4 linked regions of the Homo sapiens genome follow. The protein of the gene in region 1 interacts with the protein of each later gene in a pairwise test. Each region holds a gene or a part of one and is shown on either strand. Other genes may lie near its edges. The genes, in order: CYB5R3, SLC10A1, NXPE3 and GAST.

Evidence for each region.
Region 2: the proteins of CYB5R3 (region 1) and SLC10A1 interact in binary tests that used the Homo sapiens proteins (3 or more experiments, as listed by UniProt).
Region 3: the proteins of CYB5R3 (region 1) and NXPE3 interact in binary tests that used the Homo sapiens proteins (3 or more experiments, as listed by UniProt).
Region 4: the proteins of CYB5R3 (region 1) and GAST interact in binary tests that used the Homo sapiens proteins (3 or more experiments, as listed by UniProt).

What each region holds. Positions count from the first base shown.
Region 1 is NC_000022.11:42,625,379-42,632,412, forward strand, and holds part of CYB5R3 (NADH-cytochrome b5 reductase 3), read right to left. Parts: intron 6,073-7,034; coding exon 6,000-6,072; intron 5,611-5,999; coding exon 5,504-5,610; intron 2,904-5,503; coding exon 2,774-2,903; intron 2,311-2,773; coding exon 2,227-2,310; intron 2,012-2,226; coding exon 1,926-2,011; intron 1-1,925. UniProt on the Homo sapiens protein: Catalyzes the reduction of two molecules of cytochrome b5 using NADH as the electron donor.
Region 2 is NC_000014.9:69,787,230-69,794,263, reverse strand, and holds part of SLC10A1 (hepatic sodium/bile acid cotransporter), read left to right. Parts: intron 1-7,034. UniProt on the Homo sapiens protein: As a major transporter of conjugated bile salts from plasma into the hepatocyte, it plays a key role in the enterohepatic circulation of bile salts necessary for the solubilization and absorption of dietary fat and fat-soluble vitamins.
Region 3 is NC_000003.12:101,824,211-101,828,765, forward strand, and holds the end of NXPE3 (NXPE family member 3 isoform 1 precursor), read left to right. Parts: 3' UTR 1-4,021; downstream 4,022-4,555.
Region 4 is NC_000017.11:41,708,317-41,715,358, forward strand, and holds the start of GAST (gastrin preproprotein), read left to right. Parts: upstream 1-4,014; 5' UTR 4,015-4,071; intron 4,072-7,042. UniProt on the Homo sapiens protein: Gastrin stimulates the stomach mucosa to produce and secrete hydrochloric acid and the pancreas to secrete its digestive enzymes. It also stimulates smooth muscle contraction and increases blood circulation and water secretion in the stomach and intestine.

The sequences.
Region 1 (7,034 bases):
GCACCTGTAATCGCAGCTACTCAGGTAGCTGAGGCAGGACAATCGCTTGAACCCGGGAGGCGGAGGTTGCAGTGAGCCGAGATTCACGCCATTGCACTCCAGCCTGGGCAATAAGAGTGAAATTCCGTCTCAATTTTTTTAAAAAAAGTTATGTCTTCCTCTCTGAGCTAAAGTGTGTCTCATGCTTTAATCCTCACCACCATCCTTTGAGGTGGCCACCGCCGCGACCCACCTGACAGATGAACAGAGGGATGGAACCTTGGGGGGCTGCTACTCGAGGGTAGGGGGCTCCCAGCTCAAAACCAGGCACTGAGGTCACGGAGGAAGGTAGGAGAGGAAACGAGCAGCAATGACCCGACTGGCACGGTTCTCGGAGTGTAGCATGGGGACCCCTGGGGTTGGGACCCTGGAGAGGATCCCTGAGGCCAAATGGTTTTCATATAATACTGAGACACTGGTATTTTTCACTCTTCCTCTCTCAGTAGATGGGGCCACTTTCCAGAGGCTGCGTGACTGGCAACATCACACAGATGGGATGTAGAAACAAACACAGGAATCTAGCTGTCCTATGAAGCCAGACATTCCAAGGTTTGCAAAAACGTAAAACAGAATGATGTTTTCTAAAATAGTTTTTTAAAAATAAAAATAGGCTGGGTACTGTGGCTCACGCCTGTAATCCCAACACTTTGGGAGGCTGAGGCGGGTGGATCACCTGAGGTCAGGAGTTCGAGACCAGCCTGGCCAACATGGTAAAACCCCATCTCTACTAAAAATATAAAAATTAGCCGGGCATGGTGGCACACATCCTGTAATCCCAGCTACTCGGGAGGCTGAGGCAGGAGAATCACTTGAACCCGGGAGGCGGAGGTTGCAGTGAGCCAGGATTGTGCCATTGCACTCCAGCCTGAGGGACAAGAGCGAGACTTTGTATCAAAATAAATAAATAAATAAAACCCTGGTTTGCATCCTGGTTTCAGCACTTCCCACGAGACATGCACAGTCAAGCCCCTCCCGGAGCCTGTGTTCGGAGGTATGAGATGAGGCGACCACACTGCCCTCGCTACCAGCTGCAAAGATGGCCTGTACAGGTGACAGACGGTCTGACGGCCTCCACAGACTCTGAACCAGCACCACCAAGTCTCACTGCTGCCCTCTCTCCCTCCACACCAGCCAGCTTAGAATTTCTGGCTCTTTCTCCCCTGGGCCTGGCAAGGCCATCTTGGTTGGCCTTGCGGCAGTTTTCTGCAGCTGCGGGGAGGCAGGGTGGGGCAAGGACCCACATCCAAGGACCTCAGGCAAGCATCTTCTCCCCCAAATCTACGTCATCAGTCACAAAACACTAACCTGAAAAGACCTTGCAACAACCCAGTTTCATCAGCTCATTCTACAGATGAGGGAGTGAAGCTCAGAGAGGGAAAGTAGCTCGTCCAAGACCACACAGCAGGCCAGGGCGGGCAGGCAGGCAGTGGGCTCGTGGACAAGGATATGAATCAGGAGCCAGAGACACCAACATTCAAATCCTGCCCTGACACCCTGTAGCTCAGGGGCTTCGTGCAAATGTCTGGTCATTTGTAAGATGGGCCCCTCCATGTCCAGGCCAGCATTCTTCCCACTCTACCAGTGGGTTCCACACCGTGCTCATGGTGAAGGGAGTTCTGAGTTTTGGAGGAAGCAGCCAGGGGAGGGGGTGCTCAGGGAGCTCCCCGCAAGGCAGCCCCCTCAGCCAGACACAGGCGCTGCACCACAAAGCCTGCCCGCCGTGCTGCTGCCAAGGCCGCCAGTGCACAGAACATTCAGGGCCCCCCATCCCGGTCATCCCCAGAATCTCAGCAGAGCTGTGCAGACCCCTGGAACAGCACCTGACCAGGCCCGAAGTCCCCTCTCAGGGTAAGCTGAGTTTCCCCATCATGGGGATGCCCACTGACCTGGTTGGCAAAGAGCAGGTGGCACACAGTGTGGTCATCAGGGTCCTTCATGATGGCGCGGATCACCTGCAGCATCGGGGTGATGCCTGCAAAATAGCCGGCCGGGCCTCGCACGTGCTGAGCGAGGCCTGTTCACAGGCACCGCCCCGCCCAGGTGTACTGGGGTGGAGGGGCCAGGACCACTGGGCCTGGGCCCCTGACCTCTGGTAGCTCCCAGGCACTCAGAACCTGCGCCTCACCCACACCCCAACCCCACCCTTAACATGAGCCGCCGGACGCCTCAGTGGGGGGTTCCGTGTACCTGTCCCTCCCGCGATCATGCCCACAGACTTCACTGTCCTGATGATAGGGTTGGACTTTTTGTCAGGTCGGATGGCGAACTTCCCTGGGGAGAGAGAAGGGGTGAGGCCCGGCCATCAAACATGCCATGTGTGGTGGCTGGAGAGGCTGGAGAGGGGGCTGGAGAACCTGCCCCCACTGTGAGGTCCGAGGTAGAGGCAGCTGCCATTCTAACGCGAGCCATGAGGAAGGTGCAGGAGCAGTGGAGAGGCTGGGAACCCGGAGGCTCAGCTCTGTCCTCTTGCTTGCTTGTTTCAGATGCTGAGAAAGCCAAATAGAGGCTGGCAGTGGGTGAGACGTGGCCCCCAGGAGTGGCCTGTCTGCAACCCCTGTGCCAGCAACTTACCCCCTCTACAGCCAGGGAGACTCAGTTCCCAGAGAGGGACAGCTGGCCTGACGAGAGTCACCCATCCACACAGAGCCAGGGGCCTGCACCCTGCACCCAGCACGCCCAAGCTCTCCAATTCTCTGAGCCTGCCGTGTAACCAAGGGATTCCGACCCGAATCACCTTTGCCCTGGTAGACCAGCAGCCCACTGGGGCCCCGGAACTCAATGGTGTCTCCAATCTGCATGCTCTCCAGGTACTGAGACATCTTCCCTCCAGCGGGAAACTTGGGATGGGTGTCCTTGAAGTAAACCTGCAAGACACCCCCGCAGCCCTCAGTCCCCAGCTCCAGGTCTCAGGGGCGAGCTCTTGCCCACAGTGGGAGACAAGTGCCTCTTCTGCAGCTTCTTCTGAGGCCCACACATGGCCTTCTCCCGTGGAGCCCCATCCACCCAGCCGTCAAATCCTACCTGTCCTGCACCCCGTCCTTCACCCCGTCCTCCCAGGAGTCAGCCTCCACCTGACATATCCGGGGAAAGCAAACCACCAGCCTCGTGTACAAGGCCGACCAACTCCAGGGCTGGATGCACTCACATTTCACCAACTGTCTCTGGGGCCCCCTCCCAACGGGAGACACTGAACCCGTCAGCAAAGTCAAGGCTCTGGGAGGCCCACTAAGCCACACTCCTCCTGGTGGACACTCAGTCCCTTCCGTTTTGTGCTGTCGCTAAAAACCTCCCTCACTCTTGGGACTACTTCCTGCCCTGCACTCTCTAGGATTACTGTCTTGGGAAAGAGAAGGGCCTCAATCCGACACCTACAAAGAAATGGGGAGACAGAGGAGGAGCGGCTCACCCTGCCCAAGGAGTCTGATGGATGGAGAAGGGGAAGGTGGCTGGGGGAGGGACAGCGTGTACACAGTGCCTCAGGGAGGGGAGCCTGTTGTGGCTTCAGCACAGAGGGTGGCTATGGGGTGTGGAGGCAGAGGGGAGTGGAGGGCCACGGACAGGCAGGCAGAGCACACTGTCCTGGGCCCTGGGTGCCAGGCCAGGACTCTAACCTTTATCAAGGACCAAGGGAGCCAGCCAGGTCTCCAAGCCAGGAGAGGCCTGGTCACCTGTGAGTTTTTCATCCTCAATTTGAATCCTCCTAATAGCTTCTCCACATTTGGCCAGAGAGACTTCAACGTGAACAGATGCTTGAGCCCTCATCACCTCCTCTGTGCTTCTGGACAAAGCCCCAAACCTTACTGGGGCCTCCAAGGCCCCGTCTGGCCCCACTGACCTCTCCCACCCCTTGCCCCAACCCTCCAGCCACTTCAATCCTTGAGCCTGCTGCTGACTTCAGGGCCTTTGCACCTGAAGCTCCTTTTCTTCCTTCTTCACCTGGTCAGTGCCTACTCAGCCCCAGATCTCACCTTCACTGTCACCTGCTAGGGAGCCACTCTCACCAGCCAACCCCACCCATCCCTGGTGGCCCTTCTGGAAGCTCGGTCGCAGGTACCTGTCCCCTGCAGGGAGCACTGGCTTCCCCATGACTATGTGTCCAGTGTCCGTCCTCCAGCCAAAGACGGGCTCCTGAGGCCAGGCCTGGGCGCCCCAGCAAGGAAGGAGCCCGGGCCAGGGCCCTTCCCACCCTTCAGATCCAGTGCCTGCCCCCAGACCTGGCAAGGTAAGGGCCTCAGCTACGGCCCAGTAAGGGGGCTCCAGGGGTACCTGAGGGTGCTGGGCTGGGGAGGCTATAGGGCTTTGGCCTTGATTGGGGAGGGTCTCCAACACCCCACATACCCACTGGTCTAGGCTGCTTCTCACCCTCTGTTCTGCAGGAAAGCTTGTATTTCTTTTTTTTTGACTGGCTCTCATTCTATTGCCCAGGCTGGAGTACAGTAGCATGATCTTGGCTTACTGCAACCTCTGCCTCCCAGCTTCAAGTGATTCTCCTGCCTCAGCCTCCCAAGTAGCTGGGATTACAGGTGCGCACCACCATGCCCAGCTAATTTTTTTGTATTTTTAGTAGAGACGGGGTTTCTCCATGTCGGCCAGGCTGGTCTCTAACTCCTGACCTCAGGTGATCCACCCGCCTTGGCCTCCCAAAGTGGCTTACAGGTGTGAGCCACTGTGCCTGGCTGAAAGCTTGTATTTCTAATTTTCATAAAAACGTCCCTGCTGGGGCCGTCATGCTGCCTCTTACTTCCCACTCGGCATGTGTGTTTCAGGTTCCGGGCTGCTGCCCCTAACGCCTGCATCTTCTCCTGTGAACCTCCACCTCGAACCCCGCAGCAGACCCCAGAAAGCCCATCACCCCAGCTCCCAGACAACACCACACGAGCCCCTCACATGTTTCCCTAGCAGGCCTGAGGGACATTTCTTAGGGAAACGGGTAAGAACAGGGCCTGCGTGTCACAGAGGCCCGGCCGCTGACCACGGTGGAGTGGCTGCCTCACCCCGCACACTCGGGACCCAACTCCCAGGGATCTCCCAGCGTGAGAGCAGGGACGGGACTGCGCCGTCACACCTCGCAGCAGGGGCGTCTGTACCGCCAGCCGGCCTTCCTGGAGCCTCTGCTGCAGGTACCTGTCCTTGTTTGAAGGCACTTGCCCTGAACCCTGGCCCCTGTTCTCTGCCAAGACCCCCTTCTTTGGCTTTTGTTGGTAAAGATGACGTGCTATTTACTCAGAAACCAGGCACAAGGGAGCACTGGGTCTTTGGAGTCCGGGCTGCGGGGGGACATGGACTCGAGAGGGGCTCTAGAAGCCACTGCCCCTGCAAGCCCCTGAGGAAGTGGGGCAGCCATGACCGAGGCTGGGCTGCACAGGGCAGGAGCGGGAGACTTCCCTGTCCAGGGGGTCCACATGGGCTGTTGCCATGGCCACCCACCCACACCCCCTCCACAGTCATGACCCAGAGGCTTCACCTTGATGACCAGGTCCACGAAGCCCTTGTCATCATCGCTGGAGATGGGTGTATAGGGCCGGACGACCAGGTTTCCATCAATTCGAGCCGAGAGGTAGATGTGCTGGCCTGCAGGACAGAACGGGGTCACTCTGGGCCAGAGATCATCCTGCGGGTGACCCCTGGGTCTTGTCAACCCACTCCCCTGCACCCCACCCGGCATTCAAAGCCTGGCCTGGCGTCAGCTCCCACGGCCCCCTCCCACCCCTCCCGGGGATTCCCCTCACGTCCCAGCTTCCTGCCTCCATGCCTTCACTCCTGCTGGTGCCACTGCCAGGGACTCTGGGCCTTCCCACTCTCATTCCAACAGACTCGCCCTCAAAGGCCCAGGGCAGCTGTCACCTCCTCCTGAAGGCTTCCCTGCTCTCCCTGGTGGAAATGTAAAGCTTCCATCTCTCTGATCTAGTGCCCCAGCAGCCTGCCGGGCTCCGAATGGGCCCAGCAGGGGCGTGACTCACCGACAGGGAGGCCCAGGATGTGCTGGGGTGACGGCAGGGCAAAGCGGAAGCGCCGGGTGTCATGGCTGATGATCTGGAGAGAGGCCCAAAGCTGCTGAACGGTCCCCAGGGCAGAGGCCTCCCAGGGCGGCTCCCAGGCCTCGGAGCCCCCATCCCATTCCTCCTTTGTGTCCCCACCCTTCCCCAGTGCCTGCTTGTCCTTGTAAGACGTGACGCCGACGCCAAGCACAGATGCACACACATGCACGCTGCGTGTGAGGTGCTGAGGCCAGGCGCACGCTGGGTGTGTCTGTCCTGCTGGCCTAGAGGGGCCACAAACAAGGTGGCCAGAACAGGGAATGAACCCAGGGTCCCAAAGGGAGGATGCCAGACAGGACGGGGAGGGAGGAATCCATCTCTGCCATCAGCTCAAGCAGTGGCCTGAAGGGGCAGGAAGAACTTGAGGGCTGGATGGGCAAACTGGGGCAGAGCTAGACAAGGCTGCACGTGCCCAGGCCTGCATCCCAAGAGAGGGGCTGCAGAAGCCACTGCACCTGAGAGCCCCTTGGGAAATGGGGCAGCCAGGACTGAGGTGGGCTTCACAGGGCAGAAAGTGGGAGCCTTCCCTGCCCAGGAACTCCAAGAGCCCAAAGCCAGGCTTCCACCCTGCACAGGGTGGGCACCCAGGGCATGGTCAGTGGCTGGGACAGTGGCAGAGGAGGAGGGGGGCTGGCTAAGAGCCAGATTGGGCCAGGGAAGGAGCTGAGACTAAAACCCCTGAGGTCTTGTTAAGTGGGTCTTACGCTCAGGCCAGGGACGATCACATAATCAGTTCCAGTCGGAGCTGGAACCAAACCCAGCGTCCTGAGGGTGCACTCCCTGTGGGGTCCCCAGTACCCAGCATGGCCAGGAGAGGGAGTGTGAAGAAGCCATGCGGAAGGTCGGCGCTGCAGAGGCGCTTACATCCAAACGTGGCAAAGTCCACATGTGGATGGTGTCATCACTTAGAGGGGGACAACAGACCTCTCCAACAGGGCAGGACATCACAGATGCCCA
Region 2 (7,034 bases), on another chromosome or scaffold:
AATATCCATTTTATGTGAAATCAGCAACTCATTCCATTTTTTTAAATGTGCAAACCAAACAATACATGTCAAAGGGCCAGCTGTAGCCCAAAGGCCCCAGTTTGAGATAAGCACAATACTCTACATCCCATTTAGAACTGGAAGGAATTGTAAGACACAGATCCCATTTTACACATGAAGAGGCTGAGGTCAGAGACTTGCCAGAGGTTTCCCAGAGTTTGTGGGAAACTGTGTCTCCCTCCACTCACTCTGCCTCATAGGTGGAGTCAGTCTGGGGACAGCCTGCCATCCCAGGAGGCCAGGCCACCAAGCAGACCCCTCAATGCAGCCAGGGACGGCAGCTCCCTCCTCAAGGAAGGCCACTAGACAAGTTTCAAAAAATGTAGGTGACAAACAGGCAAGAGAAAACGCCCTCACAGTTGAAGTGAGTATGGCTTGTCAGGCACAGAGAAGAGAGTGCTATGCCAGCAGGAACTGGCCTCTTTTGACCATCCTTGCTGCCCCAAGTTCATCTGCTCCCCCTGCCACCATCGGACTCACAGCAGAGCCCAGAGCCAATGGCCATGGGGACAATGGGCTTGGACACAACCCAAGCACTTCCACAGGTCTCCCAGCCATGATGTAGGAAGCTCAACCAGGACAAGATGGAAGCCACTGGGGTCCCAGAAGTTTTCCACTTCATAGAGACTGTGTTGAGGCCCCTCACAGCTCCCTCAGCTTCTGCCTCCAATCTGTGCATTGACGGACACTCGAACGAGTCCCTTAAATGGGGTACACAGATGTCCAAAAGCAAGGTCTATGCTGTGCTCTTGGAACTTAAGCAGGAGGGAAAAATAAAAAAAACAAATGTGCCCCTTTCCCCCTGAAAGGCAACCAGGCCTACAATCTCAGGAATCTAGAGTCTGAAAAAGTCCTTGCCCGTCCCTGTCCCTTGGGGTAAACCAAGGATCACAACAGTCACGGATGCCAGCAGGCTAGGAGATGGATGTCCCTGACCTGACCCCAGGACCTGTGCAAGTGGAGGAAGTACCTGGGGATCAGGGAACATGGCTCCTGCATACCCAAGCTGACAAGGCACACCAAGTCCAAACTCCAAAACTCCTGACACACAAGCCAAAGTAAGCATGATTCCTCTGCTCTAGGTCACCAGAACAAACACACAAGTTGTGTTTGGCTTTTCCCTAAGAGAAGATCAACAGTAGCATTGAAACCCCCTGTATTCCTATTCCCAATCTCATTACCCTCCACCACTTGCCAAAGGGAGCATCCCTGGGAATTTGGTGTTCAGCATTTCCACCGACCCTTTTCAACTATTATATACGTATATATTCATAAACAAGATAGACTGCGGGATTTACGTCTTTTAATTTTGTACGAACAGTATTATACTGTCCACATCACCTAACAGCTTGCTTTTTTTTTTTTTTTTTGAGAAATAGGCATGTAAAGAAAATAGCTACCTCATGTATCTGAACTGCTGTGCAGTTTGCTTGCATTTATCCATTCTCCTGTTGTCAGATTCATGTGGATTTTACGTCTCGCTTCTGTGAACAGACTTGTGTGTGTCCCTCTGCCCACATGAGGGCATATGCAATTGAAGCAGGACTGCTGGGTCGTGGGAGTCACACATCTTTAAGAGGTCTCCAAGGTCATTGTTCACTTCACACGTTCCCTAGCAGTGTCTGAAGATCCCTGTTTCTCTGTGCCTTCATCTATATTTGGAATTGTCAGACTTTTTAATTTTTTCCAAATGAAAACAGTGAAGCAGATCGCAGTAGTTTTAAATTTGATTTCATGGGAGGCCTACCACATTTCCACGTGTGCGTTGGCCATTCATGTGTCCTCTTCTGGAAACATTGGGTCCTTTGCCTGTTTTTCTATGGGATTGTGGTTTGGGTGGGTTTTGAAAATTAATTTCTAAAGTTATTGTTTTATATATGTTGCAACAGTCTATTCACAGTTTGGAGCTGGTCTTTACACTTTGATAATAATGTCTGATAGATTGCTTATGTTAATTTAGTCAAATTTGCCAATATTTTTCCTTTGTGGTTTATGTTTTTTAGGGGTTTCTTTAAGAAATCTTTTACTATCTACAAGCCTGTCCAACATGGCAAAACCCCGTCTCTACTAAAAAATACAAAAAAATTAGCTGGGCATGGTGATGTGCACCTGTAATCCCAGCTACTCAGGAGGCTGAGGCATGAGAATCACTTGAACCCAGGAGGCAGAGGTTGCAGTGAGCCAAAATCATGCCACTGCACTCCAGCCTGGGCGACAGAGCAACACCCTGTCTCAAAAAAAAAAAAAAAATTTACTGTCTACAAAGTTACAAAGATATTACCCTGTATTTTCTTTGAAAAGTTTTAAATGTTTGATTTTCACATGGAGAGCTCCAATCAATGTAGAACTTATTTTTATGTATGGCATGAACTAATTTTATCTTTTCCATACAAATAGAAGATTCCAAGCCACGTTGAGTGAATTTTTCTCCAGGTATTTGTAATGACATCTCTCTCATAAATGCAGGGCTTGTGTCTGGATCTCTCTTCTCTTCTACGGGTCTATGTGGCTACCCTTGTACCAGTTCCACACTTTCTTAATTACAATTTTATAAGTTTTGTTATCTGAAAGTTAAGTCCCCCTACTTTGTTCTTGAAAATCATGGGCCGGGCACAGTGGCTCACGCCTGTAATCCCAGCACTTTGGGAGGTCAAGGCTGGCCGATCACGAGGTCAGGAGATCGAAACCATCCTGGCTAACACGGTGAAACCCCGTCTCTCCTAAAAATACAAAAAATTAGCTGGGCGTGGTGGCGGGCGCCTGTAGTCCCAGCTACTTGAGAGGCTGAGGCAGGAGAATGGCGTGAACCCGGGAGGCAGAGCTTGCAGTGAGCCAAGATCACACCACTGCACTCCAACCTGGGTGACAGAGCGAGACTCTGTCTCAAAAAAAAAAAAAATCATGTTAGCTATTCTTAGCCTTTTACTCTTTCACTTGAGTTTCAGTATCACCTTTCAAGTCTACAAAAAAAATTATAAGTCTGGAAGTTTTATTAAATGTGCATTACATTTATATATAAATTGAGAGACTATCTTTATAATATTGAATCTTCCCATCTATAAATATGATATAGCTTTTCTTTTACTTAGGCCTTTTTTAATACCTTTCTATAAAGGTTTGTAATTTCTTTCATAAAGATCTTACATGTCCTTTAGATGTATAAGTATTTTCTAGTTTTGTGAATATCATAAATGGTGTCTTTTAAAATATATATATATTTGTTTCTAGTATATCAGACCCAATTGATTGACTGACTGATGCTAATGTATTTAGAACCTCATACATTTTCTTACTTACCAGTTATAATGGAAAATTACTTAGATTTCTTCTGTGGACAATCCTATCATTGGCAAAACAAGAAAGTTTCATTTCTTCTTTTCCCATCCCTATACTTTTTCTATTTCTTGTTTTGCTGTGCTTACTAGGGCCTATATATAGTATAATTTATAAAACAGGTAATAATAATGACTATCTTTGCTTTATTCCTCTTGTTAAAGAAAATCCCTCTATTTACCATTAAGTTTAACGTTTAATATACTTTTTCTAATAGATTTCCTTTCAAGTTAAGGAATTTTCATTCCGTTGCTAGTGTACTAAATTTTTATTATGTAAGAACATTAAATTTTGTTGACTTTTCTATAGCTACAAAATTGTACCATTTCTTTAATAATATAGTAATATGTATTAATAGATTATCTAATGTTAAATCATTCTTACTCATCTTGTTCATTGTATTTTTTAAAACACTTATTTGCTAATATTTTATTATTTTTGTTTCTATGTTCATAAATAAGAGTGGTCCCCAATTTTCTTTTCTCGTAATATCATTCTCCAGCTTTCGTTCCAAGATCATATTAACTTTATACAATAAATTAGGGCATGTTTCCCCTTTTTATATTATCTGGACAGATTTGCATAATATTGCAACAATCTGCACTTTGCATGTTTAGTAGAACACTACCGTAAGACAGTATAAATCATGTAGGGTTCTAGAAGATAGGTTTTGAACTGCTTATTAAATGTCTTAAATGATTCTAAGTTGAATCAGGTTTTCGGCTTCATATTGACTTGGTTTTGTAGGTTATATTTCCCATGAAATTGTCCATTTAAGTTAAAAATGAAAGTATGAAAATGTCCTTAATGACTTTTTAAAATCTTCATTTTCTCTGTAGTTATGTTCCCTTTTTCACACTAACCTCATCAATTTGTGCCATCTCTCTTTTCCCTGGTCTGCCTTGCCAGAGGTGCCTATTTAATTGGCCTTTAAAAAAAAAAAGAAAAAAAAAAAACCCTATTTTTGGTTTTACTGATTCTAACAATTTACAAAACTTAAAAAATTTCTTCCTTTTCTTTTTATTGGGTTTTTCTCATTCTAACCTCTTAAGGTGCTTAACTCATTAATTTTTAATCTTCTTTTTCAATATAAATATGTTAGGCTATAAATTGCCCTTTAATAATTGCTTTATTTGCTCCCTGCATGGTTTTTAATTACTATTTATTGAGATATAATTCACATACCATAAAATCCATTCTTTAAATTGTACGATGCCTTGGTTTTTAGCATAATTCCAAGCCTGTGAACCTATCACCATTATCTAATTTCAGAACATTTTCAATACCCCAAAAAGGAACTCCATCCCATTTAGCAGGAGTCCCCATTTCTCTCTCCTGCTCCAACCCTTGACAACCACTAATCTTTCTGTCTCTATGGATTTCACATAAATGGAAGCATTCAATATGTGACCTTTTGTATCTATACTTCTTTCACTTAGCATATTTTCAAGGTTCATTCATGTGATAGCATGTCACAATACTTCATTTGTTTTTGTAATTGAATAATATCCCATTGTATGGATATAATACATTTTGCTCATCCATTCATTCAGCTGATGGACACATGGGTTGTTTCTACTTGTTCCCTAGTATGAATAATGTCTATGGAAGCTCACAGGCAAGTTTTTGTGTGAACATGCTTTCTGTTCCCTTGGGATATATACCTAAGAGTAGAATTGCTGGGTTATATGGTGACTCTGTGTTTAAATTTTCTAGAAACTGCCAAACTATTTTCCAAAGCACCATTTTACTTCCCACCACCAGTGTATGAGGATTCCTAATTTTCCATATACCCTCCAACACTTGTTATTGTCCAGCTTTTTAATTATAGCCATGCTAGTAGATATAAAGTGGTATCTCAAAGTGGTTTTGATTTGCATTTTCCTAATAAGTAATGATGTTGAGCATCTTTTCATGTGCTCATTAGCCATTTGTATATCTTCTTTGGGAAAATATCTCATTCAAATCCTTGGCCCATTTTTTACTTGTTTTTTATTATTGCATTATAAGAGTTCTTCATATATTGGCCGGGCGCGGTGGCTCACGCCTGTAATCCCAGCACTTTGGGAGGCCCAGGCGGGTGGATCACGAGGTCAGGAGATCGAGACTATCCTGGCTAACACGGTGAAACCCCATCTCTACTAAAAATACAAAAAAAATTAGCCGGGCGTGGTGGCAGGCGCCTGTAGTCCCAGCTACTCGGGAGGCTGAGACAGAAGAATAGCGTGAACCCAGGAGGCGGAGCTTGCAGTGAGCCGAGACTGCGCCACTGCACTCCAGCCTGGGCGACAGAGCAAGACTCCATCTCAAAAAAAAAAAAAAAGAGTTCTTCATATATATTCTGAATATTAGACCCTTATCAGATATATGACTTGCAAATATTTCCTCCCATTCTCTTGTTGGCTTTTCACTTTCTTGATGGTGTCCTTTGAATCACAAGTTTTTAATATTAATGAAGTCTGACTTGCCTTTTTCTTTGGCTGTTCGTGCTTTAGATGTCTAAGAAACCATTGCCTAATCCAAAGTCCCCTCTCCATGTTTTTTAAATATGTATTTTATTATTTTTATATTCTAAATACTGTTTCCACCATGATTTCATATTTGATGATATAATTAGAAAGTTCCCCTCCCCTCATCCCATGATCCTTTTATTGGTTGCTCAGTTTCAATGCTCCTCCCATCCCAGGTCTAATACCTCAATTCTGGTCCCTTCCTTGGGCATTAAAGCCTCCACAGTGCCAAGACTAACACCCCACTCCCCTCCAGAACCCCTCTATGAAGCTTCAGCTTGAGTTCCCCCACTACTTTGCATTTGTTTCTTGTCCGTGGGCACCTTTTTTTTTAGTGGAGTGGCGCTAACATAGCTCACTGTAACCTCAACCTTCTGGGCTCAAGCCATCCTCCTGCCTCAGCCTCCCAAGTAGCTGGGACTCCTGGTGCACACCACCACACCTGGCTAATTTTTGTGTGTGGTTTTTGGTTTGTTTGTTCATTTGTTTGTGTGTAGAGACAGGGGTCTTACTTTGTTGCCCAGGCTGGTCTCAAACTCCTGGCTTCAAGCAATCCTCCCTCCTCGGCCTCCCTAAATGCTGGAATTATAGGCATGAGCCACTATGCCACACTTAAATTGAGTGTTAATTTCTTACAAGCTCAAGTGTGTATTTAAGTGTTCACGGGGGTGGGGGAGTTCCTATTACCTAGTTCACAATTTTCTTTGAGGGACTCTTCTCACCTCTAACAGCTCTTATCCTTATGACATGCCTACCTATTGTTCTTGATGGCTACGCTCTGGAACCTTTGATATAGGCTGCTCTTCATGCATATTTAAGCCATATTCCATCTTTATAGAAATAATGAAAGAAGTGTAGATGGAGGGTAGGGCTGTGGGGAGGAGGAGGGACACACTGAGTGTGGTTTTCCTAAGATCTTGCCAAGCCCTCACCTCCCAACCATCTTCCCACTGGAATAAAAGTCAGAGCCATATATTGTTAATGTAAATGTCCATAAATCTAAGGAGATGCCCTATCAGCTTCCTTCTCAGTTGACCTTTCTGGAGGGCCTCTCCCTAGACAGGGTCCTGGGACTAACATATATAAGATTCCAAATGGAAAAGGAAATTGGACAAGTAGGATACATATTAG
Region 3 (4,555 bases), on another chromosome or scaffold:
GTGAGAAACACTAAGAGAAGAGGTAAGATAGAATGAGGGAATAAACATGGCTTGTTTATTATTTTGGGGGATTTACCAATAACTGGTTTAATTCTGTTCATGATCCAATAGTATTGGTGATATTAGCTCCATTTTATAGATGAGGAACTCATGTTTAGATCTGAAATAAGGTATGTGAGAGTCCATATCTCTTTTCAGCTAAACTTGTGAGACTTTCGTAAAGAAGCGTTTGTATTTATTTATTTGTTTTTGAGACAGGGTCTTGCTCTTTTGCCCAGGCTGGAGTGCAGTGGCATGATATGGCTCACTGCAGCCTTGACTTCCTGGGCTCAAGGGATCCTTCTGCCTCAGCCTCCTGAGTAGCTGGGACTACAGGTATGTACCACCATGCCCAGCTAATTTTTGTATCTTTTTGTAGAGACTACATTTTGCCATGTTGTCCAGGCTGGTCTTAAACTCCTGAGCTCAAGCATCTGCCCACCTCAGCTTCCCAAAGTGCTGGGATTACAGGTGTGAGCCACTGTGCCCAGCTGAGAGTTTTTCTTGTCGTGAAAGAACTTGACATTTCCTCAAGGATTTATAAAGGAGGCTGAGGAGTAATTTTCCCAGGAGAATTTTAAAAAGAAAGCGGGCATTGCTCCTCCAGTGGTTTGGAATGATGCCACTTGATTGTGCAAATGATTTCTTATGATCTTGTCTGGTTTTCTGTTATTTTTTGATTTGGTGACATAGCTCTCAAAGATTTGGTGACACAGCTTCTTGAGTCACTTTCATCTCTCTTAAAAAAATTTTTTTTTTAACAACTTTTAAGTTCAGGGGTACATGTGCCAGTTTGTTTCATAGGTAAACTTACGTCATGGGGGTTTGTTGTATAGATGATTTCATCACCCAGGTGTTAAGCCTAGTACCCATTAGTAATTTTTCCTGATCCTCTCCCTCCTCCTACCCTCCACCCTCCAATAGACCCCAGTGTGTGTTGTTGCCCTTTATGTGTCCATGTGTTCTCATCATTTAGCTCTCACTTATCAGTGAGAACAACTTTCATCCCACATCTAATTTGTCTTTCTTCACTCTGGTGTGGAAATTTTGATAGAGATTCCAATATCACTTAAACGTTTCCCAGAATATTTAGATAGAATAATTTAGTTTCTTCTGAAAAGTTTATTTTAGGCTAGTGCCACATGGTTGTGAATATTAGCATGGTAGCCAAATAATAGTTTGTTTAAATGTATATTTCCCAATATAAATATAAGGGGCATCATAATTTTTAAAAACTATAAAATCTAGAAGAAAAATCTATGGATAAAATCCATAATTCTATCATCTGAATGCAATGAACATTAGCATTTAGGTATATTTTCTTGCAGGTTTTTTAACCATATACTTATAGAGAATATGTAATTTGGGTCTGTGTTTTTTACATATAAATATTTTTCTATGTTAAATAGTCTTCATAAGTTAATTATAAAGATCTGCTTAATAGTTCTGCTACTGCAGTTTTCATTATTAGATAAGTTGGTCATTATAGTTGGACATTTAGGTTTACAATATTAAAGCAGTGGTTTATATCAATTTCAGTGGTTTAAAATATGAATTTCTATTTTGGAATGAAAGTATTAATTTAATGTAGTGAATCTCATATTCCAGAACTGAGATGATTGATTTGATGCTATTTGTGACAGACAGAACCCATAATAAAGCCTTTCTATGCAAGTTACATTTTATAGAATTATCCTACTAAAAGTAACCTTTCTTCAGCGAATGCAAAACAGACCTTTGGTGTTCCAGTATGATTCATTTTGCCATTCTGAACAACTATCATTTTAATTAAGACCATTTAACTGACACTTCCTGGATTCAGTTATTAAGTTTCAGATTGAAACTTGATCCAGTTTAATAACTGAATCCAGTTTCACATTTATCAATCTGAAAACTTAGTTTGCAGATTGGTAAATCAGGGTACTTGACAAGAATAAATATGGTACGCCTTTATATATTCATGTGTTACATGCCAGAAATGAGTCTGTTTCTGGACCCTGTTCAAGGAAATAGTGATGACTGAGAGAGGTACAGGGAAATAAACACCCAAGGGAAACAACAGAAATAAGCCTCCCCAACTTTCTAAAAAACTGCTCAGCATTATCTCTGTGGATTCTGGGTAAATTCAGCTTTTTAACATCAGCTAGTCACTAATGCCAGAAATTCCACTTCAAGTGTATTTATTTTCTTGTGTTAAGCATTATTCTACCTGGTTTATGTCTACAATGTAGTATTAGTGTACTTAGGATTCTTGACACCTCAGTGTGCAATAAATAAAATTTTGAAGTTGTTGTTTTTCATTTGAAGGTGAGACCACAGCCCCTGAGTGCTAAGGGGACCTGGGAATCCTAGGGGAATGGAGGTGGTGGACGATAAGAGGATGGTTGAGGGCAGGAGTTTAAAGGACACAGAAGCTAGGAGAGCAGAAAATGTACTCCACCACCTTCTGTCTAACTTGTCTCTTAAAAGTGCTTTTACATTTTAACTTTTTAAAAAAATGTGGGCCGGGCATAGTGGCTCATGCCTGTAATCCCAGCACTTTGGGAGGCCGAGGTGGGCGGATCACCTGAGGTCAAGAGTTCAAGACCAGCCTGACCAATATGATGAAACCCCATCTCTACTAAAAATACAAAAATAGCCAGGTGTGGTGGCACATGCCTGTCATCCCAGCTACTCAGGAGGCTGAGGTGGGAGAATCGCTTGAACCCGGGAGGTGGAGGTTGCAGTGAGCCGAGATCATGCCATTGCACTCTAGCCTGGGCAACGAGAGTGAAACTCTGTCTCAATAAATAAATAAATAAATAAAAAATAAAAAAGTGTGAACTTAAATATATTTATATGTGTGTACATATATTTTCTTTTTTAATATTCTGGTTAAATGAGAGGCCATCGGGCCTCTTTTTAAGAGTCTAATGATGTGTATATCTAATGCCCATTCCAGCTGGATTGTAACACTGCTTGGGGAAGATAACTTAAAAAAAAGTAGTACCGAGATTACAGCAGCTAGTGTCCTAAATGGAAAAGAAGTGAAACTAAATGTCATAGGAGAAATCCTTTCAGTTTTGTGCAGTGGTTCATTTGCTGTTAAATCTACCCCATTACCATTCCCCTTACTCCTTGAAAATAAAGTGATCTTCATGTTACAGGACCATTGCTTTATTTATGTCACAGATTTCTTGTCCTTTAATTAGTCAGTGAAGGCACATGATTGCGATACTACTTTTTGATTGCCGTATTGTAAAAGCTATATGGTAAAAGGTAACTCCCTCCACCCGCCCACTGCACCCTCACGTTTAGGGGCCACACAGAAAAAGCGAAATAAGATGAGGTGAATCTAATGAGAAGGCAACTCTAATGCCCATCAGGAGATTCACTAGGACATTTTAAAAGGACGTCTTTAAGGAAAAAGTTTTGTTTGTAGATGTTGCCTCTGATTCCTCCCTGCGGCTCCAGTCCAGGTCTTGGAGCCGGCCCTCGAGGGGAATGTCCGGGACTCGGGTCGGTACCTTTTTGGTCTGGGAATTTCCAGTGTGCAGAAAAAAAATCCACAAATCTAGGCCTCGCTGCCCCCTCCCTGCCTCCTCTGGCCCTCCTCAGTGCCCACGCAACCCGGTTCGAAAGAGAGGATGACCGTATTCTGCATTTTAGAAAACAGGCTCTTAGCTTCCCCCGCCCCCGTCCTCACTAGAGTGGAGAACTGAAAGCGAACGCTATAAAGGGCGCCAGTGAGAGGGGCTGGCCTCCTCTTGCCACGAGGTCAGACGGCGAGTTCTTAGAGAAAAAGGCTGCTTAGCTGCTGCTTATCATGTAACCTCAAAAGGAAACTGATCGTCTTTCTCATGCTGTCACGTACTTGGGTTATTATCGCTGATTACAGCTGGAAACAATTGATTTGCTCTTACGTATTTGTGTGACTTGACTCTTCAAACACAAAGGTATATTTTTATTATCTGATATTTTATTAAAATATCTTAAATGGTAAGATTTTTTTTTTCTTTTTCTTTCCTATTCCCATAGTCAGATTCTTAACTTTGGAGTCACTCTCCTATGTTTGAGTAGCCATACTTGCTTTGGGGCAAAATATTGGGGGATAGTTTTTTGGAGAAAGAAAATCTGGGATGTTTTTGTAGTTTAGTAATAGCAAGAATCATGTCTGTTTGCTTTAAAGGCCCAGGAAGGACTGAGATACTAATGGAGGAGATCGATAGAATGGGTGATGAAGTATCATAAATCTAATGTAACACTATCTTCTGTCAGTGACCTAGAACTATGATATCCCGAGGCAGAAGTCTCCCAGGAGATTTGATGTGTGGGTTTAGAGGAGTACTTTCCCACCAACCGTAGGCATGAAACTATATGGGAAAATATATCAGAGTAAATTGAAATACTTTATAGCATGCCCTCATTCATTCTTACAGCTGTAAAATTAAAATGTATGAATGGCCATTTTATGAATGAGGAAAACCTGAAATTTGATGATTTGGCTGGACCCCCAGATTCATGATAATCTGTATAT
Region 4 (7,042 bases), on another chromosome or scaffold:
CCTGCCTCAGCCTCCAGAGTAGCTGGGACTACAGGCATGCACCACTGCACTTGGCATAAGCTCTCTATTTTAAAGCCAGTAACCTTAATCACACCTGCAACGTCTCTTTTGTTATGTAATCACATATTCACAGGTTCCAAGGATTGGGGCAGGAACATCTTTGGGGACATGATTGTTCTGCCTGCCACATTCCTACTGGGAGGATAGAGACCTGAGTTTCAGACCCACCTCTCCTTTTTGGTGTGTGGACTCAGGATGGGGATTACTTCACCTGTCTAAGCCTTAGTTTCTACTTCTTTTTTTTTTTTTTTTTTTTTTTTGAGACAGCGTCTCACTCTGTCTCCCAAGTACAGTGGCACAATCATGGCTCACTGCAACCTCACCTCCCCGGCTCAAGCAATCCTCCCACCTCAGCCTCCCAAATAGCTGGGACCACAGCCACGCACCACCACACCCAGCTAATTTTTGTATTTTTTGTAGAGATGGGGTTTTGCCATGTTGCCCAGGCTGGTCTTCAACTGTTGGGCTCAAGTAATCTGCCGGCCTCGGCCTCCCCAGGTGCTGGGATTACAGGCGTAAGCCCCCGTACCCATCAGTTTCTTCTGAAGAAGGGGTTCACACTAGCACTTAGGTCCTAGGATCATGGTGAAGAGTGATTGCATTCATTCATGCTAAGAGCTTATCAGTTCCTGGTACACGGCATTGTTATCGTTGTGATGACAGGGGCAGGGCCCACACACCTGCACCCTCGAGGGGGACGGAGATGGGTCCCAAGGTCTGGGATCTGGTCTTCAATTTGGTAGGCCCAGAAATTGAATTTTCTGCTCACCCAGCTAGTCGGTGTTAGAGCCATGATTCAAACCCTGGCCTCACCAGTTCCAAAACCCCCTGTACACCAGGAGGTCCAGCTTCCATAGACTCTATCCCTGCTGCCTCTTTCAGTGGCAGTTGGGCTGAGGTCCCTCTGAGTCACAGCTGGCAGGAGGGAAACCCTTGGATTCACAGAGTGATATGCTTAGGGAATTACCCTCCTTTAAGCCTTGGGGAAGGAGAACTCCCCCAAGTGTATAAAGCGTGTGCACAGACCTTGTCACCTCTTCCCTTCACTGCAGCCCTATGAGGTACAAATGAATGATTCCTATTTCCAAATGTGGTTAATTGAGACCCAGAGAGGATGGGGGAGAAGACGCAAAATGGATTAAATACCTGCGATATTCTCTTTTGTTTGTCTGTTTGTTTGAGACAGTCTCACTGTGTCACCCAGGCTGGAGTGCAATGGCACAATCTTGGCTCACTCCAACCTCCACTTCCTGGGTTCAAGCAATTCTCGTGCCTCAGCCTCCCAAGTAGCTGGGATTACAGGCATGTGCCACCACGCCCAGCTAATTTTTGTATTTTTAGTAGAAACGGGGTTTCACCATGTTGTTCAGGCTGGTCTCGAACTCCTGACCTCAGGTGATCTGCTTGCCTTGGCCTCCCAAAGTGCTGGGATCACAGGCATGAGCCACCGCACCCGGCCAAATATCTGCAATGTTTTGAGCACCGTGCAGGGCGCTTTATGTACATCACCTTCACGAGACCCTCCTCCCCAAGTTACTTTCCTCATTTCCTAGAGGAGAAAACAGCTCAGAGAAGGAGAGAAATATGCTCAAAGCTCAACAGCTGGAAAAAGACAGGACCAGGAAACCCTTCCTTTTCCATCAGACGAGGTCCCCTCATGAGGAGAACGTGCAGTCCGTGACTGGGGAGCTCCTCAGGGTCAAGGATGCTCATCTCTGAATGCAACCCTTCCCCTGCAGACCTGGCAGGGTCTGCAAATAGTGACATTCTTTTTTTTTTTTTTTTTTTTTTTTTGAGACAGAGTCTCGCTCTGTCACCAGGCTGGAGTGCAATGGCATGATCTCAGCTCACTGCAACCTCTCTGTGCCTCCCAGGTTCAAGCGATTCTCCTGCCTCAGTCTCCCGAGTAGCTGGGATTACAGGCGCCCGCCACCATGCCCAGCTAATTTTTGTATTTTTAGTAGAGTCAAGGTTTCACCATGTTGGCCAGGATGGTCTCGATCTCTTGACTTCGTGATCCACCTGCCTCAGCCTCCCAAAGTGCTGGGATTACAGGAGTGAGCCACCAAGCCTGGCCAAATAGTGACATTCTAACCATTGCCTATGGAATAGGAGACATGCTTCTATTTGTTGAAATTGTCATCCCTCATGTAACCAGCCTGGGGAAGAACATTCAAGGGGGCATAACCCCCTCCATGGGCACAAACTGAGTCTTGGGCTCTGGTACAACCAGGGTTCTACTGAAAACTTATCATTTCCCATTAGTGTTACCATAGCAACACGAATGTCTTCATTCATTCCCCTAGTGTATGAACAGAGCTACACTCACCCCACCTGTTCTCCCAAGCCCCCTCAAAGTCCTTTCATCTCTGAGATTCTGTGATTCAATTAATTATCACCAATGCCTGCACTGCTTTTTGTCGTTTTCATTTATTCCATCTGCTGAGTCACCGTGTCCTGCTCTAGATGAGAGTGGTTATTCACAACGGTTATTCAGCCGTCAGTTGCCATGGACACCGCACAGCCTGCTTCCTTCATCACCCATTAATTCTCAGCAAGGCTGGCTGTAAGCATGGGTACCACTGCAGTTACCCAATACCCAAGGGGATCAAACTCTCCCAGAAAAGGTGGGGGCCCAATGACGCATGAACAGGAGCAAAATCTCTGCTCTCAACAGTGGAAAAGTAAAAAACAGCCTACGGCTCATTACATCTGGTCAAACCATGTGGAGGCAGCAGTTTATCAAATAAGTCAACAAGGTACCATTTTGTTTTCTGGTCCATCTTTGGCAAATGCTTTAGTCTGTTTGCTAACCATTTGAAGGTATATTTTGATACTGAAAAGTTGTTGGCTGGGCATGGTGGCTCACGTCTGTAATCCCAGAACTTTGGCAGACTAAGCTGGGCCGATCATGAGGTCAGGAGTTCGAGACCAGCCCGCCCAACACGATGAAACCCCATCTCTACTAAAAATACAAAAAATTAGCCAGGCGTGGGGGCGTGCGCCTGTAATCCCAGCTACTAGGGAGGTTGAGGCAGAAGAATCGCTTGAACCCAGGAGGCGGAGGTTCCAGTGAGCCGAGATCACACCACTGCACTCCTGCACTCCAGCCTGGTGACAGAACTAGACTTTGTCTCAAAAAAAAAAAAAAGTTGTTATGCAGATTACTAGCTCCCCTTGAAAGCAAAATGAAGGAGGCTTCAAAGGCAGGACCCTCCAGGAATTGGTTCTGCATAGGGGGTTTGCAAGTGGTGGTGCATGGGCAGCTGACCTAGAAGACACGGGGCAGCTACAAGCCAAACCCAGCCCAGCACAGAGGGCCTAAGGAGAAGAAGGCACCAAGGGTGTTCCATGGTAGGGGGAGGGTGAAAGGACTTCAGAGGTGACCAGGATGTGAGCCACTAGAAGGAGAGAACAGGGCCATCAGCCCACAACCCATTGCTCCTGGTAACACGTTATGTTTGCAGAGTCCAGTGGAGGGGACGGGGAATCAATACATCACCCCACATTCACACGCTTGCCAAACATCAGTGGATGGCGAAATCCACTTTCCCTGAATCTAAGCCCATCGGGTTCACTCCCTCACCTACCACCACCCACAAAGGTCCCTATGTAGTTCGAGAGATAAGTGCCAGGCCTCTGACCCCCAGGATATGGTGGGAAGCATTGCTCCTGACCCAGGGAGCTTGGTTCCTGCCCCTCAGGTACAGCTGGAGAGCTGCCGCCACCCCGCTCCAGCCCCTCACCATGAAGGTCAACTCCCCTATCCTTCCCCCACATCCTGGATGACTGACTGACACTAAATGAAAGGGCGGGGCAGGGTGATGGGCTGTACCTGTGCCCCACCCCATTCCTCTCGCCTGGACTCATATGGCAGGGTAGGGGCGGGGTGGGGGGACAGTTGGGAGGGACCTTGAGGGCTTTATAAGGCAGGCCTGGAGCATCAAGCAGAGCAGAGACCTGAGAGGCACCAGGCCCAGCCGTGGCACCACACACCTCCCAGCTCTGCAGGTGAGAAAACCCAGGAGGAGAGGGGAGAGGCTAGGAAGTGGGTTGACAGGTCCTCTCCCCCATCAAGGTACCAGGCCACTGGCCAGAGTCTGGGGCTCACCCCTTGGGGTCTCCAGAGCTGGGACCCTTTCTTTATCCCAGGATGGAACTAGGTCTTGGCTCCAGTACCTACCCTGGTATTCCCAACCTTGCCTTCCACCTGCCCTTCTGCCGCAGCCGGGGCCCTGCCCTTAGCCTATCCCTTCACACTCTTCCCAGCCCTGGGAGGTGAGGAGGACTGGGGTTCTTCTCCTTTCTCTCAGACAAGAAAACTGAGGCCCAGAGGCAAGATGTGACTTGCCCAAAGTCACAGGGATTATTAGGCAAGGCTGGGATAGGAATCCACAGCTCCTGGATCCCACTTCAAGCCCTTTCCTAGACCAGTGCCATCCAAAAGAACGTCCTATGATGCAGGAAATGGTCTTCATCTGCACTGTTCAATATGGTAGCCACTAGCCACGTGTGCGCTTGAAATGGGGTTAGTGTAAGGAAGTTTTTGTTGTTGTTGTTGTTTGTTTTTTTATATAGAGTCTCGCCGTGTCACCCAGGCTGGAGTGCAGTGACATGCAACCTCTGCCTCCCAGGTTCAAGCAATTCTCCTGACTCAGCCTCCCGAGTAGCCGGGATTACAGGCGCCTGCCACAACACCCAGCTAATTTTTCATATTTTTGGTAGAGACAGAGTTTCACCATGTTGGCCAGGCTGGTCACAAACTCCTGACCTCAAGTGATCCAACCCCCTCAGCCTCCCAAAGTGCTGGGATTACAGGCGTGAGCCACTGCACCTGACCATAATTTTTTAATTTAATTAATTTAAATGTAAAGAGCCACATGTGGCTGGTGGCTATAGCACTGAACAACACATGTGGTTAGCATCTGACAATACAGCTCCAGATCACTGATTTTTCAAACATTTCTTCAGCAGCAGAATTCTTTTCTTCCAAAGAAAACCTAACAGAAAACCTGATTATGAAAAACTTAATGGCCAGGCACCGTGGCTCATGCCTGTGATCACAACACTTTGGGAGGCTGAAGCAAGCAGATTGCTTGAGCTCAGGAGTTCCAGACCAGCCTGGGCAACATAGTGAGACCTCATCTCTACTAAAAATAAAAACAAAAAAATTAGCTGGGCATAGTAGTGCACACTTGTAGTCCCAACTACTCAGGAGGCTGAGGTGGGAGGATCTCTTGAGCCCAAGAGGTCGAGGCTGCAGCGAGTCAGGATCACGCCAGCCACTGCATTCCAGCCTGGGAGACAGAGCAAGATTCTGTCTCACAAAAAGAAAAGAAAAAAAGAAAAACTTAAAAGCAGTACAGTATTTTATTAATACAAATGTATTCTGACAAGAGAAAATTTTTATCATTTTCTTATGATAAAGCCAATCAGAATAGTGAGACCAAAAGCATACAAAAATAGTGAGTCCAGGGAATAGATGAGCATTTGAATTTTATGTTTGTTTGAGATTCCAGTTTAGTTCTGTATTATGTTTTCCCCAAACTTGATTCACCCTGATACATAATTGCTAATGGTGACAGCTTAATTTTTTCTTAACTGCTTCATTATAATCACAGGATATTCCTCAGTTAAGCAAAAATGACAGGAGAACCTTTCCTCTCAGGGCTGCACAAAAATCAGTGTGAGCTGGCCAAGCATTGAATGTGCTGCAGTCTCCAAAGTGATAACATGCGGTCTGTAACACAGCTGGATGTCCATGTTCCTTTGGTATTACTATTTAAAAGTTTCACTTTTTGTTTTTGTTTTTTTGAGACAGGGTCTCACTCTGTCGCCCAGGCTGGAGAGCAGTGGTGCAATCTCGGCTCACTGCAACCTCCACCTCCCCGGTTCAAGCGATCCTCCCACCTCGGCCTCCCAAGTAGCTGGGAATACAGGTGCATGCCACCATGCCTGGCTAATTTTTGTATTTTTTGTAGAGATGGGGTTTCAGTATGTTGCCCAGGCTGGTCTCAAACTTGTGGGCTCAAGGGATCCATCCTCCTCAGCCTCCCAAAGTGCTGGGATTACCATGCCTGGCCTAAAAAGTTCACTTTAAATAACAAGTCTTGGGCTGAGCACAGTGGCTCACATCTGTAATCGCAGCACTTTGGGAGGCTGAGGCGGGAGGATTGCTTGAGCCCAAGAGTTCAAGACTAGCTTGGGCAACATGGTGAAACCCTGTTTCTACAAAAAATACAAAAAAAATTAGCTGGACGTGGTGGTGCAAGCCTGTAGTCCCAGCTCTTCTGGAGGCTGAGGTGGGAGGATCACCTGAGCCCAGGAGGTAGAGGCTGCAGTGAGCAGTGATTGCACTACTGCACTGCAGCCTGGGCGACAGAGTGAGACCCTGTCTCAATAAATAAATAAATTACATTACTTAAACAGCTACAGAACCACTAACATGGCCTCAAATTCTGCAGAACAGAACCTAGGGAAACCATTGCCCTAGGATTTGACTTTCTCCAATAGAAGCAGTGGCTGTAATCGGGGTAGGTAAAGAGAAAAAACACAAGACTTCGGGGCTGGTGTGGAACTGGCAGAAACTGGAGAACTGATCTGAAGAAATAGTCCACAACTCCACACAGAATTGCAGACTCACCCGGGTGCGGTGGCTCATGCCTGTAATCCCAGCATTTGGGAGGCCGAGGCGGGTGGATCACCTGAGGTCAGGAGTTCGAGACCAGCCTGGCCAACATGGTGAAACCCCATCTCTACTAAAAATTACAAAAATTAGCCAGGCATGGTGGCACGTGCCTATAGTCACAGATATTCTGGAGGCTGAGGCAGGAGAATCACTTGAACCCGGGAGGCGGAGGTTATAGTGAGCCGAGATCCCACCACTGCACTCCAGCCTGGGCAACAAGAGTGAAACTCTGTCTAAAAAAAAAAAAAAGAAAGAATTGCACACTCATCAGCAGGTAGAGGCCTGGAGCCACAT